Homo sapiens: one gene and its partners. The protein of the gene in region 4 purifies or fractionates together with the protein of the main gene of each other region. This does not show direct contact. Each region holds a gene or a part of one and is shown on either strand. Other genes may lie near its edges.

Region 1 (3,500 bases), on a different chromosome or scaffold from region 4:
AGTCTCGCTCTGTCGCCCAGGCTGGAGTGCAGTGGTGCAATCTCGGGTCACTGCAACCACCACCTCCCAGATTTAAGCGATTCTCCTGCTTCAGGCTCCCAAGTAGCTGACATTACAGGTGCGTGCCACCACACCTGGCTAATTTTTTGTATTTTTAGTAGAGATGGGGTTTCACCATGTTGGCCAGGCTGGTCTCAAACTCCTGACCTCAGGTGATCCGCCCACCTTGACCTCCCAAAGTGCTGGGATTATAGGCATGAGCCAGCTTGCCAGCCTGCTGTTAGCATTTCTTTTTTTTTGTTTTGAGACAGAGCCTTAGTCTGTCACCCAGGCTAGAGTGCAGTGGCATGATCTCAGCTCACTGCAACCTCTGCCTCCCGGGTTCCAGCAGTTCTCCTCTCTCAGCCTCCAAGTTGCTGGGATTACAGGCACTCACCACCACGACTGGCTAATTTTTGTATTTTCAGTAGAGACGGGGTTTCACCATGTTGGCCAGGCTGGTCTTGAACTCCTGACCTCATGATCCACCCGCCTCGGCCTCCTAAAGTGCTGGGATTACAGGGGTGAGCCACCACGCCCGGCCTGCTGTTAACATTTCTAACTCATGCTGTGGCAAGTCGATGAAACCCTCTCTGTTTTCACACTGCTCAGAGGCTGCTGCCCCAACACACCTTCATGTTTCACTTCTTTCTGGAAAGTTCTTTCTGGAGAGCTCTCCTGTGTGAATGAACGTGTGTGACTGGAGTGCAGACTGTGGCCCTAGAATAAAAGAACCTTTCAGTCATAACCCATGCTGCTCGCTAAAGCGGTTCCAAGATTTCCACAAATTCAGCCACAACCTTTGCTGCCTGTCAGAGAGGCAGGCCTGGCCTGGACATGCACCCACCCCAGCTGCTCTGTGGAGTGACCCTGTCTCCGTGTTGATCCTAGTTTCTCCTGTACTGCGAGGGGACGCGCTTCACGGAGACCAAGCACCGCGTTAGCATGGAGGTGGCGGCTGCTAAGGGGCTTCCTGTCCTCAAGTACCACCTGCTGCCGCGGACCAAGGGCTTCACCACCGCAGTCAAGTGCCTCCGGGGGACAGGTAGGCCCCAGACTGCCCGAGCCGGGGCCACCGCTATGCTCACGGAAAATAGTGATTTCTTTAAAAAAAAAAAAAATGAGTGCATTCCATGTGAAACACAGAAGAACAGAAGTGCAAAAGGAATCAAGTGAGGGGGTCGGCGCCGCAAGGTTCCCGCGTCAGGTTTTGAGGTGATAAAATGCTAATTCATGAGAAACAATTAAAATAATAAAAAATACATAATGCAAAACCTTATGAAGGGAAAATAATCATTATTGTATCTTATTAATCCAAAAGGAGTCAAAATAAAAGAAAGGGACAAAGAACAGAAAACAGCCAGACAGCAGGGTCACACTCACAGCGTCAGTACCCATGGGAAACGTCAGCCACTAAATGCCCTCACCAACAGAGAATGGGGAAAAAAGAGGGGGAAAGAAAACTTAGAGAAGAGGTCCTGGTGTGTTCTCCCCAGGACGGGGCCAGACCCCTCACGCGTTCTCCCCAGGACGGGGCCGGGTCCCAGGTGGAACTTGCTTTTCCCTCTGGCAGTGACCATGCAGCCGCCTGGGCTGGGTCATTCACCCTCCCGTCTCCTCCCACAGTCGCAGCTGTCTATGATGTAACCCTGAACTTCAGAGGAAACAAGAACCCGTCCCTGCTGGGGATCCTCTACGGGAAGAAGTACGAGGCGGACATGTGCGTGAGGTGAGGCCAGACCCTGTGGCTCTCGCGCCGCCCCCCATACCTTCATGAGCTTGCGCTGGGCAGAGGCCAGGAGGGTGGCTGGGTCCAGGCCCCACGTCCCACAGCCCCGCAGGGTGGAACTCACACGGAAGGCCTGTCTGCAGCCCTGCCCTGCTGAGCAGACACAGGAGAGGCCCTGCAGGACTCGTCCGGGGCTTGGGTTGCAGGCCACGGAGAGGACATGGAGACACGGGGGATGTGTGGGGAGACTCACCATTGCCCACGGTGTGTTTCATTCCTTTGGGGAAATCATTGACCTGGCTTTCGAGGCCACCTCCATCCTCTCCTTCTGCCTCCTTGGGAAGCCCCTGTAGTTCCCTCTGTAAGATGCTCTGTCCCTTTGTGGGCTTTGTCTCAAACCCCACTGGGCTCCATAAGTCTCCTGGGGCCCACAGTCACACGACCTGGGGGGCATACGGTGCTGACTTCTCACCGAGGGGTGAAACCCAGGCAGGTCTCTTGGTGGGCAGGACGGGACCACCTGCGGAGCCCCTGGCCTGAAGCAGCGCTGGTGATGGGAGTGGCTTTCTGCTGGCCCTGGTGATGGCAGCCGCAGCACGCGAGGGACCGCAGTGTCTGAAGGAGACAGTGGTGAAGGGAAAGGAAGAGCCTGTTTGATTTTTTTTTTTCTTGGAGACGGAGTTTCACCCCATCGCCCAGGCTGGCATGCAGTGGCTCAATCTTGGCTCACTGCAACCTCCGCCTCCCCGGTTCAAGCAATTCTCCTGTCTCAGCCTCCTGAGTAGCTGGGATTACAGGTGCCCACTACCTCGCCTGGCTAATTTCATATTTTTTTAGTAGAGACAGGGTTTTACCATATTGTCCAGGCTGGACTCGAACTCCTGACCTCAAGTGATCTGCCTGCCTCGGCCTCCCAAAGTGCTGGGATTACAGGTGTGAGCCACCACGTTGGGCCGAAGAGCCTTTTTCAAACCCTGTCTTGAGAGTTGGGGCTTCAGTGCTATGGGGCCCCAGTCCTGTCCCAATGAAATAAAATGGGAGTGGCGTGTCTAGACCCCAGGAGGAGCCTGGGGCTTGCTCTGCAGGGTACCAGCGGCTTTCCTTGGGGCAGTGTGTCTCTTTCCCCACACAGTCAGGGCTGTGGGTGCCGCCACCAATCCGTTGCTGCCCTTGGACTCTCCAAGCTTCTCTGGCTCACATAGAGGAGAAAATCCACCCAGAAATCCTGTTGACTTAAAACACAGGCTGGGGTTGTGACCTTGATTCCAGCACAAATCATCATTTCAGGCAGGCCTTTGAGGCACGAAGAAACCGTGCGCTGGATGGCCCTTGTTGAGCTTGTCAGTCTCTGGTTTCATTCAAGTGTGTGCGGAAAGGCAGGGCCCTCCTTGCCACATGTAAAGCTGCACAGAGCGGTCACTATATGTGTTTCCATATTTGCAATCCAACCACCACCAACTGAGTGTGCGTCCTGATCAGCCGAGCCTGCCCACGGTGGCCACAGGCCCTCTACATTCTAATCTCGAGAGCCTGAGCATGTACAAATTAAACGAAGCAAAACGACACCACCCAGTTCTGGCCGTACTATAGGAGGTTTCCAGGAAGGGTTTGTGAACATAAACATAAGCTAGGTAACACTCCTTTCTGAAGTTCAAGGACTGGCTGATTAGAGGCGGAGGCGTTCTTCTCCCGACCCGGGGTCAGTGGGGCCACGAGCTGAGAGTTCTCTCCC
Region 2 (4,226 bases), on a different chromosome or scaffold from region 4:
GCTCTAGGTATGGATTTCTGTTTTCTGTTCTTTCACATTCTCCTCTCCTACCTGCCCAAGCTATAAGCCTAGGCTGCTTGGTTGTTTGGATGGAGTGTGGGGAAAGGGTAAAAGGAGAAATACAAGATGGGGAAACCTATCAGATAATATTTTTTCAGCATAGTTGTTGGTGTCATAATTATTTTTTATTAGTTCAGGCTCTTTTTTTTTTTTTTTTTTTTTTTTTTGAGACGGCGTCTCACTCTGTCGCCCAGGCTGGAGTGCAGTGGCACAGTCTCAGCTCACTGCAACCTCTGCCTCCTGGGTTCAAGCGATTCTCCTGCCTCAGCCTCCGGAGTACCTGGGATTACAGGCATACCCCACCACGCCTGGCTAATATTTGTATTTTTACTAGAGATGGGGTTTCACCATGTTGGCCTGTCTGGTCTTGAACTCCTGACCTCAGTTAATCTGCCCGCCTCCGCCTCCCAAAGTGCTGGGATTACAGGTGTGAACCACCGTGCCTGGCCTAGTTCAGGCTCTTATTATCTCTCTTCTGTGCTACTGCAGTAGCCTTCCAACTGGTCTCTGCCCCTAGCCTCACCCCCTTCCAATCCCCTGCTATAAGATGGCTCTTTTTAAAGGACAAATCTGGCTCTGACCTATGTCTAAAGTGTTCCTTGGCTGGTGACTGCTCACCAGACCCCATGCCAGGGCCCTAGCATGGTGCCCAAGGTGCTACTGGACCTGGCCCTGTGCCTCCAGGATCCCTTCTGGCCTCTCCCTGGCTGAGCTTTGTTCTCCTCTAAAACTGAACCAAGTTTAAGTTCCCGAACTCACCTCCTCGTTCTTGCACATGCTGTCTCCACTGACTGCACTGCCTCTCTTCTTCAATCTGATGAATTCTCTTTCACTTCTCAACCCAAATCAGCTGTCACTTCCACCAGGACGTCTTCCCTGTCATTCGCTGCTCTTATTCACAGCAATGACCCCCTCCCTCTGTGCATCACCGACCTCTAATTTATTTGACTATATGTCTATCACTTGTGCCAGAACAGCAAACTCTTTTAGAGCATTCACTGCCCTCATACATCTCTGCATTCGCATCACCTAGCTTAGTGCATAGCGCCAAGTAGGCCCACAAGTTAGCCGGACTCGGGAACACATAGGAAGCAGAGTAGGGGTTAATGGGAATACTAGGTGGAGATGACAGAGGCAATGGCAGGGGCAGCAGCTAGAATAAGACTGTTAAGCAGAAAAGGAGCCTGGAAGGAACAAGACGAGGAACTGCTGTAAGGGGAGCGGTACTGCCCCGGCCTGGGGCGCCTCTTCTCCCAGCACCTGGGCGGCCCGGCTCCGCGGCCGGGAACTACAAATCCCAGGATTCTCAGCGGTGTGGACGGGAAGTGTCCTGTCTGGCGGTGCCGACGGTGAGGGGCGGTGGCCCAACGGCGGGAGATTCAAACCTGGAAGAAGGAGGAACATGGAGAGGAGAGCAGCGGGCCCAGGCTGGGCAGCCTGTGAGTGCGGAGAGGGTCAGAGAAGGGTCTCGCAGTGGTGCCGCTGGTCGGGGGCTTGGCTGTCCCGGGAGAGATTGGGGCGTGTGTCGGGCGTGAAGCCTGAGGGGCGAGGGCGGTGGGACTGCTCAGTGGGACGGGAATCCTCAGCCCGGGCGCCGTGGGCCCGAGTGGAACTGTGAGCGGCGCATTGTCCCCTGACTAATGTGCTGCGCTTTAAAGCTTACAAAGAACTTTCTTCCTATTTCCAAGTTCTGGGGTTCCGGAGTCGGGAGAATGTAGGTGATCCTAATGGCTCCTTGAAATTCAGCAGTTACTGCTGGCTACCAAACTTGCCCAGCGATGCCACCGGACAAGACGCCTCAAGGGATCTGGGGGACTCTTAGGCTTTGAGATGCCGCTTTCAGACAATGCCTGTCAAACAGGGGGTGAAATTACCCGGGAAGCTTGTTTGAGATGCAGATTCCTGGGACCTGTCCCAGAGCTTCAGTTCCAGAAGGTCTGGTTTGGGGCCCATAATCTGCATTTATAACAAGCACTGCTGTGCTTCTTCCCTCACCCCAGGTGATTGTGAGGAAGGTAGTCCCTGGGCCACATTTTCAAAGACACTGTTTTAGAGAGAGAGACTGGAGCTGGAAGGATGGGTGGGGCAGAAAGGTTCTATCTGATTTTCTGAATGAAAGGAAAACCTGCTCCTTCCACCACTCCCTTCCTTTCTATTAGGATTCAAAGAGCAAAGTCCATGTCCAGTCTTCTGTTAAAGGAAAACTAGTTCCAGACCTGAGAAGGACAGGAAAACTGTTTTTCGGTTTTTTATTTTTTTGAGACAGCATGTGTATGTACAAAATCCCTCCCATCGCCCACAGTCCTCAGTTCATAACTCTGAGATGATGTCATTCACTTACTGGTTTATTTTCCATGCTTAACAACCAACACTTGTTCCTTGTACACCCCCTTGGAGGAACTGATGGCTTTCCTGTGGTTGGCCAGTGTTTTCAAATCTGTATTTGGAGGGGTGTGTGTGTGTGTGCACGCATGTGTTTTAATTTACTTAACTGCTCATTCATATAAGCTCTGCCCTTCCCTGAATCATTGCAGAATATGCAATATAAGGAAATAGGATAACAACCGGGAATGACATTAAGTGCTGAGTCAAAGACAGATTGGCTAAGCTCTGCCTTTTTTCAAGCTCTCTGAGTTTATTTTCTTACTGTGTGTGTAGCTTTCTCTTACTCTTTCTGTTTGATTTTGTATTGTGTTTCTAAGGAGAATAGAGAGAGGGGAGAGAAGGGAGAAGGATTAAGGGAGACTGTAACTAAGGCAAATTATGATTGCTGTCTCACTTGAGGGATTCTCTATTCTTGAGTTTTGGAATCAGTACTCTGTATTTTATTTAGCTTGAAGATTCTTTTCCTCCTCGGGTGACCTATACCAAAAAGGATAGTGAAGATACCTTTGTGATCTTTTAAAATTTTCTTTGTCCTTCCACTTAATCCCAAGTGAGTGGCATGTTTCCCTCTGTTGGACTGCCTTTCCCTGTGTTCCGCCTATTTATTCCTTAAGATCTAGTTCATAGCTAGAATCCTTTGCTTCCTCTGCTGCTCCCATAGATTTTATGCATGGGCTATAATCATACTTATCATGTTAGATTAATTTATTCAGATGTTTTTCTCTTCTGATAATAATCTTTGGGCGCTGTGGTTCACGCCTGTAATCCCAGCACTTTGGGAGGCCAAGGCGGGAGGATCACTTGAGCCCAGGAGTCCAAGACCAGCCTGGGCAACATGGTGAGAACCAGTCTCAACAAAAAACGCAAGAATTAGCCAGACATGGTGGTGCGCACCTGTGGTCCCAGCTATTTGGTGGTGGGGGGGCTGAGGTGGGAAGATCACCTGAGCCCAGGAGGTCAAGGCTGCACTACTGCACTCCAGCCTGGGTGACAGAGTGACACCCTGTTTCAAAAACAAAACAAACCCACCAATATCTCTGTTGTCCAGGATGGAGTGCAGTGGCACGATCATGGCTAACCGCAGCCTAGACCTCCTGGGCTCAGGTCTAGGCCCAGTAGCTGGGAGTACAGGTTTGCACCATCACACCAGGCTAATTTGTGTATTTTTTGTCAAGACAGGGTCTCACCATGTTGCCCAGGCTGGTCTCAAACTTCTGGGCTCAAGCGATCCACCTACCTCAGCATCCAGAAGTACTGGGATTATAGGCATGAGCCACCATGCAGGCCTTTATCTCTGCATTTCTTAAGAGTAGGGGTCTGCTAGTCCAGTGCCTGGCATAAAGGAGGTATTGATGAATGAATGAATGAGTGAATGATGAATTCTGGTTGGTTCTATTACCTCACCTCTGAGAGAGTAACCAACGAGGATGACACAGGTCCAGTTCTTGGAGAACTCAGTCTAATTAGGGATAAGAAAAGGAGTTAAGTTTCAAGCCAAGGAAGGCTCTGGATGTCCCAGCTGGGAGGTACTGAGGGAAGTTCCATGAGTAGACTTGAGGAGGAAGAGGACAGGAAGATGGCTACAGAGGAAAGAGAAGTAATGCCTCCAGCACAGGAGGAGGCTGCCTATTAAAGGGTATCCTGGGAAGAGAAGGAGGGACACATGGGAGATGTTTCAGGTCTCTGAGCAGGGTTGCCTAAACAAGTCTGTTGAGAAGATGTTTCGGCTGGGCATGGTGGCGGCTCAAGCCTGTAATGCCAGCACTTTGGGAGGCCAAGGC
Region 3 (3,993 bases), on a different chromosome or scaffold from region 4:
GGACCCACTAATGCAGGAGACACACTGACACATCTGTTTGTTGTCTTGGTCCTTTCTTGTGGTGGGTGGGAAGTGCAGAGGGGCAAGGACTACGGGGGAAGGGGGAACTCTCCCTATGTGCCAGTGCTTCTGCCAGCCAACCCAGGTTCGCAGAAGATAAATGCACAATGGGCATTGCCATCCCAGGAAGCTCATTCTAAGTGAGAATTTACCTCGAGAAGTCACTTTACCTCTCTGAGCCTCAGATATTGCCTCTCTAAAAATGAGTAGTTAATACTATATAAGTTCTAAGCTCTAAGAACTCGTGGCCAGGCGCGGTGGCTCACGCCTGTAATCCCAGTACTTTGGGAGGCTGGGTCCGGCGGATCACGAGGTCAAGAGACCGAGACCATCCTGGCCAACATGGTGAAACCCCGTCTCTACTAAAAATACAAAAATTAGCTGGGCATGGTGGCACGCGCCTGTAATCCCAGCTACTCGGAAGGCTGAGGCAGGAGAATCGCTTTAACCCAGGAGGCGGAGGTTGCAGTGAGCCCAGATGACGGCACTGCACTCCAGCCTGGCGACAGAGCGAGACTCCGTCTCAAACAAAAAAACTAGTAACAGAGTTAGTTCAGGATAGGATGTGGTAGTGTGGTAGTCAGGTGGGGGAAGTACATAATGCGGGAAACTGGGAATTTGCCTTTTTAAATCAATGTCTGCAGTTGGATGGGGATAGATACGTCTGATGGCCCTCTAAAATGCAAATCGAGTGAATTTGCCCAGGGGGATACCCCTGGTTCTCCGCGCCTCAGTCACCCCACCTCAACCCCCAGCCCTCGTCTCAAGGGCACTTGTTGCTGCTAGACTGCAGGAAGAGGAAATTAAGAAGTGCAAAGAGCTGGGGACAGTGTGCAGCCCCGTTGGGAGAGTGAAGCTTTTGTCCCCCTCACCTGGGGCTCTTCCAGGTAACCCTCCCCACCACTCCTCTCCCTAGCTCCAAGGGCGGTGGCCCCTTTAACAGACCTGACAAATCGCTCCCCCATTTCCGCGGCCTCACCTCGGCGCGCGGTAGAACTGGATTGGTTGGGCCTGGCGTGCCGTTTGCTCCGCCCCCGCGCCCTCTGGTTGGCGGCGGCGGCCGCGGGCGCGGGGCGGGTCCGCCGGCGGGGCGGGGCGGCGTGTGCCCGGGGGCGGGCGGGCGGCAGGGCAGCAGGACCGCGGCCGGTGCCCCAGCCGAAGCCGGAGTCGCGCGGCCGGGAGCACGGGCGCCGGCATAGTACAATGAGGCAGCCAGCGGATCTTGGGTGAGCAGTCTCAGGGCCAGGCGGGGGCGGTGGAGGGAGCGCCCCGCGGATAAGGCCCGGGCTGGGCGCGGATCGACCCCGCGGGCTTCAAAGTACCGGTCGGGTCCGGCGGCCCTTGGCGTGGCGGGGCTCGGCCCCCCACCCCGCTGTCATGGTTCAGGTATTGAAGGGGACGCCCACCCGCGACACCCCCGGGCAATCCCTTCCTTCGGGGCCCCGCCGGATGGCTCGGGCTCGACTCCGGCGGGAGGAGCTGCCGGCCCCGTCCCCTCAGCCTGCGGTCCCCGGCCCCGGGCAGGGAGGCACCGTCACGCGCAAACTAGAGGAAAACGGCTTGCAATTTTATGAATGGGGCCCCGGGTTCCTGCCGCCCCCCTCACCGGCGACGCGAAATGCTTGAAAGTCGAGAACCGCAGTTACTTTTACTCGAATCTGTCAGAGGTTGTATGCGCCCCGGTGGTTTTTCTCCAACTCCTGGAGAACGCGGGTGGCGGTGGGGTGGTTTGTGTGCTTTAGCAGGGAGGCGGCGGCGTGCCGAAATCCGGGGGATCGGAAGGTTAACAAGTGACATTGGGCTGAGGCCTAGCGCCAGGTGCCTTGCGGGGAGGCGGTGTGGCCGTGGACGCCGTCGCTGCTGGCTGCTGAGCACGGAAACCATACGGTGGAACCGGAGAAGGCGGGGAACGGCTGGCCACATTGCACCACACGCTGCCTAGAGCGTACGGCTGCCATGGGAGTTGGTGCAGGGGAGTCTTCCCCTTTTGAAAACGATTTTTGGAAAACTTAGCCCCTCAGTGGGTTGATAGTTACTTAAACCATCGGTTGTTATGGTTACTGGGCGTCAAATGTAAGGGCAAAGTCTGTTTCCACCCTCGCTCTTTCTCCAGAGCTATGAAGTACTTTGTCACTGTGTTTTACAGACACTGTCCAGGGAGGACATCCTTTTTTAGAGTTGAGGGAAAATTGTGGGCTCCTTGAGGGCAGGGCTCGTGCCACGTTCACGTTTGAAGTGCCAGCGTCTTCACACCATCACCGCTCTGCACATGCATTAAAAGGAATGAGGCTTTTACATGTTTTGAGGATTCTCAGAGGATTCAGAGGAGTCATTTCAGGAGCCAGGTGTAAGCTGGAGGGGAAACAACGAGTGACTTTTATATGGAAAACAATAAGGAAAAATGGAGGGCAGGTTATCCTTGAACTCTGGAGTATGGGGAGTTTGAGGAGTCTAGGTTTGTGAGTTTTAGGGCTGGGTCACACAGAGACGCTTGTCTCATATTGGAAGAATGAAACTGCCATTTCTGTTAGCTCTTACCTAGCCCATAAACAATATTCTTTCAGATTCTCCCCAAAAATGGTAGTTGGTCTAAAGTTATGGTAAACAAGCCCCCTGAGGTGATGTGGATAGAGTGGGATTTTGCCATATCATTTCTTTCTTTTTTTTCTGGGCCCCTTTGGGAGTGTGAAGGCTTGGAGGGAGAGGATGTGGAGGGCTCTGGGTGAACTGAACTTGCTTGCATGTTTATCTCCAGTAAAAGGCACTGTGCCTGAGAGGAAGGAGATTAACAAATTGATTCAGATCAGAAGATGGTGGTAATTGAGTCTACTGACAAGCAACCGAGGGGCTGGGACAGACGAGGAGGGAGGAAAAATTCAGGAGTTTGGTTTGGGCTGATTGTTGGAGGTCTGAAGAGCAAGTTATGTCATCGTGAGAGAAGATTAGACACAGCATATACCAAACATAATGTTCATTATTAGAGGTTATGTTAGAATGCTTCTGGAGAAGAAGCAGGAAAGATTAGGCTTTTCGATAGAATAAATACGTAGCATGTTTTGGACAAAAAGCAGTTGCCTGGAGTTAAAAAAGAAATTATTTATTAAAATAATAATAATTTTGCTGTATGCCAGAAACTGCTAGACATTATAGAAATGATGGAGGGTTTTTTTGTTTTTAAAGGATGAAGAGTTTGTTTCTATATGCCATATTAGTTGCCTTTCCTTCAAGTCAAATGCTTCTGTTTTCTGGAAGGTTTTCTGAATCCCTTGAGGAAAGAGAGGGGAGAACTGCACAGTTTATTACTTAATATGAGAACAGAGCAATGGGGAAATTCTCCTCACTGTAGATTACTTTCAGTATCAAAGTGAATCTTCAAAGACCAGTTTTCTGTGTCAGGTTCAATATAAAATTATATTAATCCTCACGTCTGTTGACTGGTATCTTTTGATGGAAAGTGCCTGTTCTTTCTTTTTTTCCATTTGTCAATTCATTCATTCAGAGTTAGGAAGTTCATTAAACACACACTGTCTCTTGTTCTCTAGGTGTTTCTAGTTCATTTTCTTTGCCTGAATATCCCTCAGGGTCTGCTTTCTTCTGTCTGATCCTTATCTCCTGAAGGTCTCCTTGGGAATTGCTGAGGTCACAGGGAATGCTTATTCTTTGATTCTGTCCCAAGGCAGAAGACTAGTATAGAAAAGAGAGCAGTGTTGAGTTCCAACTCAGCCAGGTACTGTTTTCTGCCCCTTATGTATATATCCTCTCCAGTCCTAGAGCAGCCCTCTAATGGAGGTGTGATAGCCTCATTTTACAGAAGAGGAAACCGAGGCTCAGAGCAAAGTAGTAACTTGCCCAAGGTGACAAGCTGGTTAGATGGTGGAGCAAGAATGTCAGTCTAGGACATTGATTCAAAAAACGTGCTTTTTGGGCCAGGCA
Region 4 (3,500 bases):
AGTTCAGAAACTGGGCTGCTGGTAATGTCTTTAGTTAATAGGTCTTTTCTGCCATCTAGTGGCTAAAGCAGAGATAGACAGTTGAGTGTATTTTAATAGAATATGATGTAGCAATGGTCAGTAAACAATGTGCATATGTTAATTGTTCATAAATTATGAAGATAATCATGATTATGTTTAATAAGCATATTTCATAGATTTTAATAACCAAAATTAGTTGAAGCAATACATCCTATTGTTTGAGAGAATATGGATTTTGGAATCTACCTATGTTCTTATTTCATCTCTACCTCAGAGCTGCTGTGTAAACTTAGGCAAGTTACATAACCTTCCTAAGAATCAGTTAATAGTGGCAACAACTTCGTGGGTTGTTGTGAGTACTAAATGAGTTAAACCATATAAAATGCTTACCGGTGTGTATGCCGCTATAGCTCATCTATGTTATCGGTTACTGAGCATTTTTAGAGTGTGGTAGGCACCGTGGTAAGTGGTACACTTCTTATTATTCTGATCTTTCTGAAGAAGCTGAAACTCAGAGAGGACACGCCATTTGCCATTGTTTGCACTATTTTAAAATTACTAAATGGCAGAATCAGAATCTGAAACTCTCTGTAGAATTCGTGTTCTTAGTCATGTTTGACATTGCTCTCAATAAAGGCAATTTGATTGTAATGGCAAAAAGAGATAAAATGCCAATTTAAACGCTATTATTACTGAAATCAAAAGGAACTGTTTATTAAGATCTGGGCCACACTTGGCTGATCTGAATTGTTTCATTTAAGTTTTGATTATATACAGTGATAATTATCTAAGACATAAAGCACAACTACATGAAATATCTGTTCAATATTTAATATCTGTTCAATGTCAGAACTTTGGATCTGAAAGAGTATCTTATAGACAATATAGGTGAATTTCTTCAATTTTCAAAGAAAAATCTTTTAGCAGACTTTTGAATGAATGAAGAATACATATGTGAATATGCAAAGTACAAATAGTTCAACTCTGCGAAGTTTATAATTGTTTTCTGCTTCGACCATTAGATTAACAGCAGAAAACACAAAACATGGAGTGTTAGTGAAGCAACTATTAACTTTTATTGGTAATTGACCTGTTTTGCTATGGAAAGAAAAAAAGACATAATGGGAAATGATTGAGGATAATTAATTTTTCTTCATATTCTCATTTCATATTTCCTTTGATATTCTTAAAATATTTAAAAACCACCATGTAAGTAGAAAATCCCCATGTACTTAAAATCTCCATGTAAAGGACTGATCAACTTTCTTACTCATAATTATTTGTTTCCTAAAAATAGATGTTTATGCTTAAGAACATATTATTTCCCGATTTAAATAAACTTTGGATGCATAAATATCATTGTATACTCCATAAACAGTAAATTCCATAAAAATTAATTATTCTGAAACATTATTTTGTAGCTGATTCTATTATGTTTATTTTTAAACAGCTTGAAATAATGCTGGAGCCCAAGGTCTGGAGAGAAGCTGCTACTCAAGTGTTCTTTGCCTTAGGTCTGGGATTTGGTGGTGTCATTGCCTTTTCAAGCTACAACAAGAGAGACAACAACTGCCACTTTGATGCTGTCCTGGTGTCCTTCATCAATTTTTTCACTTCTGTCCTGGCAACATTGGTGGTGTTTGCAGTTCTGGGCTTCAAAGCAAATGTCATAAATGAGAAATGCATTACACAGTATGAATATTAATTTCCATTTGCCTTTTTTCTTAGTTTTTATCTTGTTATTTATACTTTTATTGATACATGATAGCTATACATATTTATGAGATACATGTGATAGTTCGACACAAACATACAATGTATAATGGTCAAATCTGGGTAAATGGGATAGTCATCACCTCAAACATTAATCATTTCTTTGTGTTGGGAACATTGCTCATTCATTAGCTTATAATGGCATAGTCGTTCACAAACTATACACCAAAGAACTCTTATGTGCTCATTTGTATGTTGTTTTATTTTTCAGAAATTCAGAGACGATCATGAAATTTTTGAAAATGGGGAACATTAGTCAGGATATTATTCCCCATCATATCAACCTTTCAACTGTTACTGCAGAAGATTATCATTTAGTTTATGACATCATTCAAAAAGTGAAAGAAGAAGAGTTTCCTGCTCTTCATCTCAATTCCTGTAAAATTGAAGAAGAGCTAAATAAAGTTAGTAAGCCATGTTTGAGCAATAAAATAATTATCATTCACTTGAAATATGCATTATCCAGCAGACTCCCTTCAGGAAAAGGGCCTTAAAATGCCCGAAGAAGCTCTTAAAATGCCCGGAGAAGCTCCTGGGCATTATAAGTCCTTCAGAATTTACATTCTTAATTTTAGAGAATATGTTTTCTTAAATGGTAAAGATTTGCTTTATTTTAAAAAGTTATTTCATTGATTGAGCCACAATAATTTAAAATATGAATATAAAGTGATTTTCATCATAGAATGATGATTAGTCTGAAATCTTTCTTGCTATAATTTTCAATACAGAATTAGAATTATGGCTCTCATTTACACATACATGATTGCTTTGATGCATGAATAATATTTAAAATAGAAATTTTAATAGTTGTGTTCCACAAGTCATGATCAAGTTCTTTTTTTTTTTTTTGAGCCGTAGTCTCTCTCTGTCGCCCAGGCCGGGGTGCAGTGGTGCGATCTTGGCTCACTGCATCCTCTGCTTCCCAGGTTCAAGCAATTCTCCTGGTCAGCCTCCCAAGTAGCTGGGATTACAGGCACATACCACCACACCTGGCTAATTTTTGTAATTTTAGTAGAGACGGGAGAAGGCGGTTCACCATTTTGGCCAGGCTGGTCTCGAACACTTGACCTCATGATCTGCCCGCCTTGGCCTCCCAAAGTGCTGTGATTACAGGCCTCAGCCACCGTGCCCAACCGATGAAGTTCTTTTTCTTAGCTATGTTGTATTAAATAAGAAATAGGTCACCATTAATAAATGTCCTTATATTGGCTGCCACTGTCTCCTGTATGTCGAAAAGGAAAATATAATGGAGAAATTAGTCACTAATTATTTGCTTTAAGATAGTTAACTGTACTTGAGACTAACATAAAGAATCATGTGTGGATATTATTCATTAAAAAGTAAAGCCATCATTAATATAAAAACCTTGAATTCCTTAAGGAAATATTTAATTAATTACTAATGTACCGTTCAAAGTTTTTTTTTTTAATTCTCATCTGTCTTTATGAGACAACACAACTTGAAGTTTGGTTATAGGTACAGTTAGTTAGACAAAGTAAGTTGTTATTTTACAACTCAATATTTGTGATATTTATAAAATAAACTCACATTAATATTTGCAAGTAATTCAATTTCTTTCTGCCCAATTGGAGTATCTGTCTTTTTATTCATTTTGTTATTAGTTTTGACTGGAAATTCATTGTGTCTTCTGAATTATGCAAACCAGTATATCAGCCCAACTTTTTTTTTTTTTTTAATCAGGGAGG
Region 5 (3,500 bases), on a different chromosome or scaffold from region 4:
AATAAAAATTGCTATTTTTAAAAGTCAAGACAGCTATAACGATTTTCTTCCATTTATACAAAGCAAAATAATGGAAGACACATAGATTAGCTTATTTCAGGCTTTATATGAAAACAGTGACAGAATTGTCTAAAGAAAACAAAAACCAAAACTCCTGTCATAATTGATTAGTCTGTAACATTCACATAATCATCATGACCTTTTAAAAAACAGGAAAAAATCACTCAGCTCTACATAATTGGTAAATTCAGAGAAAACTAAATATTGGGGTTTGTGATAACTCATTACTACAAATTTTAAAATTCAAATTCCATTTTTCTACAGTTTTTTCATAATACAGTGTTATAAAAGAGTAAACCTTATGTATTTAAGTGATCTTGCTTTCATTAACATTGTATTTTTCCTAATATTGAGAGGATTGGTCTTTAAGCAAAAATTACATAGTTTACCTAACTAATAAAACAAAAAGGTCAGGTTCAGTGACTCACAACTGCGATCCCAACTACTCGGGAGGCTGAGGTGAGAGGATCACATAAAGCCAGGAGTTTAAGACTGGCCTGGACAACATAGCAAGAACCTGTCTATCAAAGTAGGTAGATAGGTAGAGAGAGAGGGAGGATAGATAGAGAGAGAGAGATTAGATAAATAAATGATAGATATAGACCTGTAATCCCTGCACTTTGGGAGTTTGAGCCCAGGAGTTCAAGACCAGACTGGGCAACTTGGCAAGACCCCATCTCTACAAAAAATACAAAAATTAGCGGAGCATGGTGGCACGTACCTGCTACTTGGAGGCTGAGGTGGGAGGATTGCTTGAGCCCAGGAGGTTGAGGCTGCAGCGAGTCATGATTGTGCCACTGCACTCCAGCCTGGGTGACAGAGCAAGACCTTGTCCTCAATAAATAAATAAGAAAACAAGGATTAAAAGATGGAAACTTTCTAATACTGGGGTTCCTTATCCAGGGCTAATTTATCCTTTAGGCATAGTAAACGTGTGCCTTGGACCAAGATACATATAGGGGTCCACAGAAATATTTTCATTTTTATTTCTTTTAAATCAGAAGTAGTAATGTATATACATGTATGTAATAGCAAACCTATACAGTATTTTATTCGTGTTTATACAGATGTACAGAAAATATAGTCATAAATGTATAGAAAATATAATATTTAATAGTTTTTGTGGAGTAAGTGCCTTACAAAGGCAAAAGGGCCTAGGGCCTTGGGAAGTATGATGCAGCCCTGCTTTTCCTTCTTAAAGGCTTCCTTCCTAAACACCTTTCATCTCTTTATTTTATTCTTTTCCTACACCATGATCTTATGAATACTTAAATTCCCAACTGATTGCTATGTGTATTGAAGCATAATATCACAAAGTACATAAATCAGAAGTGTATATCCATGTAAGTGTACACCCAGATGGAAAAAAGAAGTAATTTTTTTCAGTGACATTATTGCATTGTGACCTCAAGTTCAGAGCAACATTCTGTGCCCCTAGAATACCGTGATAGCTGCTAAACTAGTCAGGAATTTTTTGTTTTCAGGCATGCAGTGGTGTAATTATAGCTCACTGCAGCCTCGAGCTCCTGGGCTCAAGTGATCCTCCCAAGTAGCTTGGATTAGAGGTTTAGCCACCACGCCCAGCACTAATCAGGATTTAAATATTAATATTTAAGGTGTATGAAATGTGCAGATAATAAAACTGTTTTCCCAGCTTTTTATTAACAAATACTCCCTTCTGAGGCAGTGTTTGAATTACTCAATTAGAGAAATTTTTCTCCCCACAGCTCGATGCATTCTATTTCTCATCATTTGGCTCATAACTGGAGGAAGGCACCACTTTTGGTTCTTGCCAAATCTGACTGCTGATGTGGGCTTCATTGACTCCTTCAGGCCTCTGTACACACATGAATACAAAGGACCAAAAGCAGACTTAAAGAAAGATGAGAAGTCTGAAACCAAAAAGCAACAGAAGTCCGACAGTGAGGAAAAGTCAGACAGTGAGAAAAAGGAAGATGAGGAGGGGAAAGTAGGACCAGGAAATCATGGAACAGAAGGCTCGGGGGGAGAACGGCATTCAGACACGGACAGTGACAGGAGGGAAGATGATCGATCCCAGCACAGTAGTGGAAATGGAAATGATTTTGAAATGATAACAAAAGAGGAACTGGAACAGCAAACAGATGGGGATTGTGAAGAGGATGAGGAAGAGGAAAATGATGGAGAAACACCTAAATCTTCACATGAAAAATCATAATCTGACTAATTTTGGGACTGAATGAATAAGTACAAGAGGTTGGATTTTCTATGTTGGCTGATTACCATATTGAACACATGGCATTTGTAGCATTCTTTAAATCTATCTACTGAAATGTATTTGACATTCAAGCAGTTATATTCGGTCCTTCATTTTATAGAATATTGGCACTATTATTGGTACAGTTTAAAGCCATTAATATGTTTTATCCATTTGATAATTTTACAGTAAGTAGGTCTCATTCATTTTGACAGTTATCAAAGATGTACTTTCCACAGTTAAATTTACATTAATGGCAATTTTTGATAGTTTTATGGCTTTTTACTGTTAGACTAATCAAAAATAACTTTAAAAGGAACAAAGAAACTCCAACATTTCACATTATGCATAGTTATGTAGCCATTTCACAGTTTCTTTAAGATGTGTAAACTCATTGTCCTTGATAGTTTTTATTTTTCATTATAAAATTATACCAGGAGATTTCTTTTAAGATTCTGAGTTAGCAGAGTTCAAAACTATTTTGTGGAAACAAGCCAACTAGTAACAATGCAGCAACACTTCTGGTTTAGCTAAATTATTTTTCCAATGTAGGAAATCCACACTGATTTGTACGTCTGACTGAGAGAAAGATGGTCGTCTCCAGCAGAGAAAGTGAACAGCATTTGTTGGAAGGTGATGGCTCTCCCTCCTCCCTCCCCATTTCATTGGCGTAACGTAAAGTGTATTCTGTACATAATTTACAAATAAAACATTTTATTTTAATTGTTACTTATTATTTAGATATTTCTCAACACTTAAATTCATAAAATTAAGACCATGTAAGGGTATGTTTTTAGAGAAATGGAAGTTTGAGTAACCCACAGAACATCTGTGATCTTTCTACAGCAGCTTCAGTTTTGTGCCAACATTCCATGTATTTTGAATATGAGCAAAAACTGATCTTAAGAGCAGACTTAAAGTAGCTTTGTACGCCTTAATGTTCATTTTGATTTATTTTAAATCTTTACATTCAGAAATGAGATACTGTATTATCAGACCAGGAGGCATTGCTGTGAAAGATAATTTCCTATTCTAAAATATCAAATTTAAAATAAAGATAATGAAAGAAAACATAAGAGAACTATTGGACTCTAATTGCTTTGAACTAGTTTTGCAGTTTGACTTTACGTCTTATACATCTTAGTTACAAGTCTTTGGAAACTCTTGTTTACTTATGAGCATAATCATTCCTTGGAGTTATACT
Region 6 (3,500 bases), on a different chromosome or scaffold from region 4:
GCACTAACTTCACTTTGGAGGCACTCATATGCTTCTGCTCAATGAAAGCAGTTGTATCAAATAAAATGTTGCCAACGTGTATTGGGTATGTGACTATAGTCTGTAAAAATGTATTAAATGTATTCAGATTTTGGTATATAAAAATATGGCAAAGCCATCAGACTATGCAATACATTCGTTATATTTCTGGCAAAGCTATGATCTATTTGCTGCCTGAAGCCTGTGACCTCTAAATCTGAGGACCCAGGGTCACCTATACACCCAATAACATAACAGGCTTCGATGGCTGTTCTCTTGATTTTGGTCTCTATGAAATGCACAGCTAAGAATCTGTGGCTTGATACCCTTGCCTTTAGAAAAAAGGCAAATCTAAAAGAATAGTCTTGACACCACTAGTCTTCTAAAGATACCACCAAGAAGGTTATATTTAGCCTTAACCCAGCCACAGGGTTAGGGAGCCCTTTCACGGGACTGGCAAGGACCCTGATGTGAGAAGGAACCACCCTCTTTACTCCTTGTTAGAACGGAAATGCAAGGAGCTTCTGCATGCCCTTTCAACCCCCTCAGGAAGACCTGCTTTCATCCCAGAACATCTTTAGTGATCGCAAGCAAACATGGAGGTGGCGCGTGTATTGGGGATTTTGTTGGCGTGCAGAGGAGTGAGACGAGGAGGAGGGGTGAGGGATCTGGGAATCTGGTGGGGGAAGAAAAGAGTCCAGGGGGCGGCAGGCTCAGAACTCACCCTCACCAGCATGCTGTCAGCAAAGGAGGCCGGGTTGTCCACCTCGGTGAAGGCCGGCGGGCCCGTGCCCATGATCCTCCAGCGCACGTAGAGCATCCCAGCCCCTCCAGAGGTGAGCAGGGTCATTCTGAAGAGGAGGCCCCCGTTCCTGAGCATGCCGAGATTCTGCAAGGACATCGCAAAGCCCCAGAGGTGGCTGATTTTCACATAAAAGTGTGGCTGAGCCAGGTACAGATGTGCAGCAATTCTGCCTGAACTGCTTCAACACTGTGCTTTAAAAGGCTGGTTATTGTAGAATTCAAAATCACAAGGAATATTTGAGAATGGCATTTTAAATCAGCTGGTACTTGACATTTTCCATGTCTGGGCTGGAGATAAAAGTACAGACTCACCTCTAATGACTTGTCCTTATGTAGTACCTTCTGGACAATTTCCAGAACATTGAATTTGCCTATCACCAAGATGTCAAATACCGCATTTAAACCCTAAGAAAGCAAAGCAAGACAATCAGCCACGGGAGAGCTTGGCTGTGTTAGGCAGCAATTACACTTCACAATTTCATTACTCAATCTAGACAAGGAACACATAGACTAGAGAATCACGGAAGACCTCTGCAGCTCTTTAAAAAAACACATAACAGCCGTACGTTTCTATGAAATTAGCTCAAGGTAATAGATCATATTTATTATTTAGTAAGCCCCTGATAGTAATGATTTCACAGTCTGCGTGTAGGAGTTCTACAAGATTCAGGATAGCTAGAAATTTGGGATTCCTAGGAAAAGCCCTCGAGAGATACCCCCTCCCCACTTTTTTTGGTCACTATAAAACAGTCCTTTAGTTCATGCAACAGAGTGTTTTCCTGGGCAGTAATCATACTGGAAGATAAAGGCAGCCATCAACCTCAAAAACCCAGCCATGTAAGTGAACCTTAAGTGCCAGTGCACTTTGGCATCTTTAGAAATGGGATGAACACACATGATAATCTCTAATGGAGCTCTGGAGATCTCTTGTGCAGAAATCTAGTTGTCCAGTAGTTTTCTCGCTGGGTTACAACTAGATGACATCTCCCAGCCTCCCCTGCAGTTAAACTAGGTTGCGGGGCTGAGTTCTAGCCTTATGGAATGTGGGAGAAGCGACACGTACCATTTTGGATGTTTGGTTGTAAAACTTGGGCACACATTCCCACTTGGTTTCCCCTTCCAGCTGGCTGGAATGGAGATGGACAGGGTGACTTTGGAAACCACACATTGATGAGAGCAGGCCTTTGCCAGGCAGGGCCGTGGTGTGGAGGACGGCCACCTCTATCAATTTACAGCTCTGTCCATGACCCATGAGGGGAACAACAAATAACTTCAATTAGCAGTCCACCTATGTTAACAGTTTCCAATAGCACCACGATAGTTACTTTCTAGCCGGTAAAATTAAACCTGTAGTTACAGGCGAAAGGAGAGATGGGCCCTGGATTCTATTCTCTCTCCTGCCATGGACTTTCTATAAATGTCACTGCTGCAGGCAGTGTCATCGACAGAACTCCCTGCCCAATCTGGATAAAGCAGTCTGCACATACTCAGTGGATATTGTTAAAGCTGCCCCTAAATGACTTGGGTCTCTTTAATATGATCTTCTTTGCGGCAAAGGAGATCACACATCATCAGAAGTCAGTGGTAATTTGTGGTTTTCAGAGCAAGGATGACATCCCTACTTAACCCTCTCCCAGAAATGCTGGGAGCCACTAATTATCTAATACATGGGCCAGTGCTGGGTTAATCAGTTCAAAGAATTCTGATTTTATTCACCCATGTGAGACATGATCTTAGTGGGTCACAGAAGACCGTTTCTGCCTGGTTGAAAACCACTTTCTAGAAGGCAGATGCTCCCTGCGTAGCAGCCATTGTCTTCTCACAGTTTTCCTGTGAGCTGCAGGACAGTTACCAAGGGGTGGCAGGTTCATGTGGTGAAGAGGCCTGAGCCAAACACAAGACTGCCCCCTTCCTTCTTAAATGCATCATCAAAATGGCCCCATTTTAATCCAATTTTTGAGAATAGCTACCTTTCACTGTATCTTTATTCATGTAAATTCAACCGAACTCTCTCCTGCTCCTGAAAAACGGCACAGAGGAGGCCTGGCGTGGTGGCTCACGCCTGTAATCCCAGCACTTTGGGAGGCTGAGGTGGGTGGATCACCTGAGGTCAGGAGTTCGAGACCAGCCTGGCCAACATGGTAAAACCCTGTCTCTACTAAAAATACAAAAATTAGCTGGACGTGGTGGCATGTGCCTGTAATCCCAGCTACTCGGGAGGCTGAGGCAGGAGAATTGCTTGAACCTGGGAGGTGGAGGTCGTAGTAAGCTGAGATTGCACCACTGCACTCCAGCCAGAGCGACAAGAGAGAAACCGTCTCGAATAAAAATAAAAATAAAATAAAATAAAATAAAATAAAAAATAAAGTACTGCACAGAGGAGCCTCCCGAGGACCTTGTAGATGGAAATTCCGACTCAGCAGGCCTGGGGAGGGGGTGGGGCCTGGGATCCTGAATTCCTAACCCTCTCCCAGATATTGCTGATGCTCCTGGTCCTCAAACCACACTTCGTATTAGGGAAAGGTTCTAAAACCAGCAGTTCTCAGGGACGATTTTGCCCTCCAGGGGGGTGTTTGGCACTGTCTGGAGACATTTTAGGTTGTCACAATTGAGAGGTCCCACTGGCATCTAGTAGGTGGAGACCAGGGACGCCACTAAACATCCCACAAACCCAGAAC
Region 7 (3,500 bases), on a different chromosome or scaffold from region 4:
TGTTGGGCATCTAGAAATGAAAGAGGAATGGAAGGTATTCCAGGCTCAGGGACCATATGAAAAAAGATACGAAGGTGGGAATGAAAGGACTTTGGGAGAATAGGAAGTACCAATAGCAAGGACACTAGTCTGACTGGGGCACAGCATACACTAAATACGCTAAATACGCTTGACTAAATACGCTACGGTAGTTACAAAATCTAACAAATCAGGCAAAGTAATTTTGATTGGATTATGTGGAAAGCTGGGGGCTGCTGCAGGTTAGAAAAACAGTGCCATTGGAAAGAAACCGCAGAAACAGGCTCAAGAATAGTAATATTTCTTTTCTTTCTTTTTTTTTTTTTTTTTTTTTTGAGACAAGGTCTCACTTTGTCACACGGGCCAGAGTGCAGTGGCATGATCTCAGCTCACTGCAACCTCTGCCTCCCGGACTCAAAAGATCCTCCCACCTCAGCCTCCCGAGTAGCTGGGAACACAGATGTGCATCACCATGCCTGGCTAGTTTTTTTCCATTTTTTGTAGAGACGGGGTTTTGCCATTGTTGCTCAGGCTGTTCTCAAAATCCTGGACTCAAGCTATCTGCCCTCAATGGCCTCCCAAAGTGCTGGGATTACAGGCGGGGGCCACCACACCCGGCCCAAGAATAGGAACATTTTTTAAGGAGCTTACCTTCAACTGAGAAAGCTACTTCGGTGAGTTGTAGCATATTTCAACCAGAAAAATCAAAATATTAGTTCACTTTGAAGAGACAAACTGAAGCCCATCCTTCTGCAACTTTTGTAGAAACAGACTGACAGACTTAATTCAATTGACCCCAGGCTAGTTGATTGTTTTTATACCATCTAATATAAAATGGTAGCTTAATCCTGCCTGTGCCTTTGTTCATGTAATTTAGTTGAGTACAGTGAAATGAGAAAGAAACTGGAAGTCACTGGGTGTCAATCCTCATCTCTGCCCCTAACTGGCTGTGTAACCTTGAGCAAACCATCTACCTCAGTCTGGGACCACACTAGATCAGCAGGCCTTAACCTCTTAGAGATGATGGGCCTTTTTGAGAATGAGAACGAGGAACCCAATTCCCCTCAGAAAGACATGCTAAATGATACACACAATGTCAAGTGATTCACAAGTTCCTTGAAATCCATCCATGAACTTCAAAGGGCAACAACCCTGAACTAAAAATGTCTGGCCTAGGTGATTCTTAGGGCCTTTCCAGCTTTAAATTCTATGACTTACCCTACTTGGAAAGTACCTTCTTAGTCTCTCGGACAAGTCTGGTCATTCATTTCTTCAAGATAAGGTATGTCATGTCAAGGGTTTATCATAATGCTGAATGTAAGATCCCCTCTAACAATCCTCTCCTCCCACTGAAGATTTCATGGCTACCCAAGTCCAGAACAATCTTTACTTTTTCTAATTTCACACATCATTAGCAATATCTACCACTCAATCTGATACATGATTATACTACCATCACTTCCAAACTTCTGGGTACCACAGTATAGAACACGGACCAGTAGTTCTCAACCATATCAAACCCAGTACCTCTTTCTTATGACAAATATTTTGTGATACCTCTTCATCAACATCAAAGGATAGTCATAATCTACCAACACACCATTTTAAAAAATGATTTCTTACTGGTAATATAAAAGAGTACCATAAAGAAACTAATTTAAAATTTAACAAAATACTTGTTTCAATACATACATTCTCAGAGACAATATTAGCAGACATAAAAGCATGTCTTCAGATTTATAAAATGCCCCTAAGGGGTGAGTACCACCTTACCCTCAATTGAGAAATCTTCAGGCTTAAGGCTGAAAATATATAAAGAAACAGAAAATAGCTTTTGAAGAGCCTGTACTTTAGTTGGATTTAAAATGCATTGTATGTTTTTTAGTTATTGATGTTACATAAATTTAATCTTTTATACATATTTGCCTTAAGTCTTAGAGAAAGAGAAATGCTTTCTAGGTAATCCTCATAGTGCTTAGTACAGACACACACACACGCATGCACACACACACACACACACACACACACACAGTAGGCAAGGCTCAAAGAACATTCAGGTGAGAAGAAACCAGAGAGATCATTTAGTCTAGAGGTTTTCAAATTCTTTCTGCAGGTAGTGAGGGGGTCATGGGTCATCCATTTGAATAAAATCTTATATAGATATAAAAACACAAGCGTAGATGAAAGCAAAAAGCATAGCTGCTCTGGTAGAGGAGGCTATGACAGCCCCTGAAGGGACTCCTTGGAACTTCCAGTTCAGCTGAATATTTGAACCACTGATATTGTCTGAGCCCTCATCTTACAGAGAAGCAAATGAATGGCAGAGCACAAATCGAGCACCCAGTGCTCTTTCAAGTACACTAGCCAGCCTCTGCCCAGTTTTGCCTATCATCTTAAACTATAATACTTCCTTGTCAGGGGTTATACTCAGTCTATTGATAAATTCATTTCAAAAAAGATTTAAACATTTCATTTCACTTCAAAAAAAGAAGAGTTGGTGGTAAGGGTATGATGCTGAGCATCGTACCCATCATTAGGCAAAATATAATGTCTCATAAGAGAAACAACAAAAATTTTCTAGGCTAACAGATCTGGGTTTAAAATGTGGTTCTATGCAGCCATAAAAAACAATGAGTTCATGTCCTTTGCATGGAGATGGATGAAGCTGGAAACCATCATTCTCAGCAAACTAACACAGGAACAGAAAACTTAACACTGCATGTTCTTACTCACAAGTGGAAGTTGAACAATGAGAAAACATGGACACAGGGAGGGTTACATCACACACAGGGGCCTGTCAGGGGATGGAGGGCTAGGGGAGGGATAGCATTAGGAGAAATACCTAACGTAGATGATGGGTTGATGGGTGCAGCAAACCACCATGGCACGTGTATACCTATGTAACAAACCTGCACGTTCTGCACATGTATCCCAGAATTTAAAGTATGATTTAAAAAAGAAAGCTCTATATTAGTGGCTTCATCTGTAAAACAGGAATACTGCTTATATTACCTACTTTATAGTGCTTTTGTGAGAAACCTTTGTCTTCTTCCTCTTAAATTCCATAGGCAATCATACTCAGTCCCTCTTGGTTGTCTCACTTGGTTGTACTTAATCATCTCAACCACAGCCTGGTTCTATCCTATCCAATTCTCCACCTAATCTGTACCTGTACCTATGCAGCTGAATTTGCTGTGAGAAACACATGACTGTGTTGAGTGTCTCACTTTAAACTTGTGATTGCTACCTCAAATGGACTCTCCCTGATGCAGAGAGACCACACCGCACTAGTCCACTCACTGGCCCACTCCTCTGGATTTCATACTTTACTCTCTTCAGACCACCAACATTCCTCATCCAGACTTATTCTCAGCAGCTGACCTATTTTGCAGACAAAACAGCAACAATCCAAAGATAATTTCCACAGACTCTCACTGCTACATCTACCCACCTAATCAAATCTGTGGCCACATGCTGTTTTC

Evidence for each region.
Region 1: the proteins of SLC6A15 (region 4) and AGPAT3 purify together in Homo sapiens (affinity purification with mass spectrometry; 3 studies listed by BioGRID and IntAct, with this or other methods). This does not show direct contact.
Region 2: the proteins of SLC6A15 (region 4) and IQGAP3 purify together in Homo sapiens (affinity purification with mass spectrometry; one large-scale study listed by BioGRID and IntAct). This does not show direct contact.
Region 3: the proteins of SLC6A15 (region 4) and TEX2 purify together in Homo sapiens (affinity purification with mass spectrometry; 3 studies listed by BioGRID and IntAct, with this or other methods). This does not show direct contact.
Region 5: the proteins of SLC6A15 (region 4) and SEC62 purify together in Homo sapiens (affinity purification with mass spectrometry; 2 studies listed by BioGRID and IntAct, with this or other methods). This does not show direct contact.
Region 6: the proteins of SLC6A15 (region 4) and TMTC4 purify together in Homo sapiens (affinity purification with mass spectrometry; 2 studies listed by BioGRID and IntAct, with this or other methods). This does not show direct contact.
Region 7: the proteins of SLC6A15 (region 4) and ACSL4 purify together in Homo sapiens (affinity purification with mass spectrometry; 3 studies listed by BioGRID and IntAct, with this or other methods). This does not show direct contact.

What each region holds. Positions count from the first base shown.
Region 1 is NC_000021.9:43,969,723-43,973,222, forward strand, and holds part of AGPAT3 (1-acyl-sn-glycerol-3-phosphate acyltransferase gamma), read left to right. Parts: intron 1-930; coding exon 931-1,084; intron 1,085-1,665; coding exon 1,666-1,768; intron 1,769-3,500. UniProt on the Homo sapiens protein: Converts 1-acyl-sn-glycerol-3-phosphate (lysophosphatidic acid or LPA) into 1,2-diacyl-sn-glycerol-3-phosphate (phosphatidic acid or PA) by incorporating an acyl moiety at the sn-2 position of the glycerol backbone.
Region 2 is NC_000001.11:156,569,766-156,573,991, reverse strand, and holds the start of IQGAP3 (ras GTPase-activating-like protein IQGAP3), read left to right. Parts: upstream 1-1,426; 5' UTR 1,427-1,462; coding exon 1,463-1,499; coding exon of another isoform or gene 1,500-1,514; intron 1,515-4,226.
Region 3 is NC_000017.11:64,260,461-64,264,453, reverse strand, and holds the start of TEX2 (testis-expressed protein 2), read left to right. Parts: upstream 1-1,193; 5' UTR 1,194-1,286; exon of another isoform or gene 1,287-1,727; intron 1,728-3,993. UniProt on the Homo sapiens protein: During endoplasmic reticulum (ER) stress or when cellular ceramide levels increase, may induce contacts between the ER and medial-Golgi complex to facilitate non-vesicular transport of ceramides from the ER to the Golgi complex where they are converted to complex sphingolipids, preventing toxic ceramide accumulation.
Region 4 is NC_000012.12:84,871,300-84,874,799, reverse strand, and holds part of SLC6A15 (sodium-dependent neutral amino acid transporter B(0)AT2), read left to right. Parts: intron 1-1,471; coding exon 1,472-1,713; intron 1,714-2,005; coding exon 2,006-2,198; intron 2,199-3,500.
Region 5 is NC_000003.12:169,990,807-169,994,306, forward strand, and holds part of SEC62 (translocation protein SEC62), read left to right. Parts: intron 1-1,787; coding exon 1,788-2,257; 3' UTR 2,258-3,500. UniProt on the Homo sapiens protein: Mediates post-translational transport of precursor polypeptides across endoplasmic reticulum (ER). Proposed to act as a targeting receptor for small presecretory proteins containing short and apolar signal peptides.
Region 6 is NC_000013.11:100,636,796-100,640,295, forward strand, and holds part of TMTC4 (protein O-mannosyl-transferase TMTC4), read right to left. Parts: intron 2,060-3,500; coding exon of another isoform or gene 1,886-2,059; intron 1,228-1,885; coding exon 1,135-1,227; intron 908-1,134; coding exon 743-907; intron 1-742. UniProt on the Homo sapiens protein: Transfers mannosyl residues to the hydroxyl group of serine or threonine residues.
Region 7 is NC_000023.11:109,684,758-109,688,257, forward strand, and holds part of ACSL4 (long-chain-fatty-acid--CoA ligase 4), read right to left. Parts: intron 688-3,500; exon of another isoform or gene 670-687; intron 1-669. UniProt on the Homo sapiens protein: Catalyzes the conversion of long-chain fatty acids to their active form acyl-CoA for both synthesis of cellular lipids, and degradation via beta-oxidation. Preferentially activates arachidonate and eicosapentaenoate as substrates.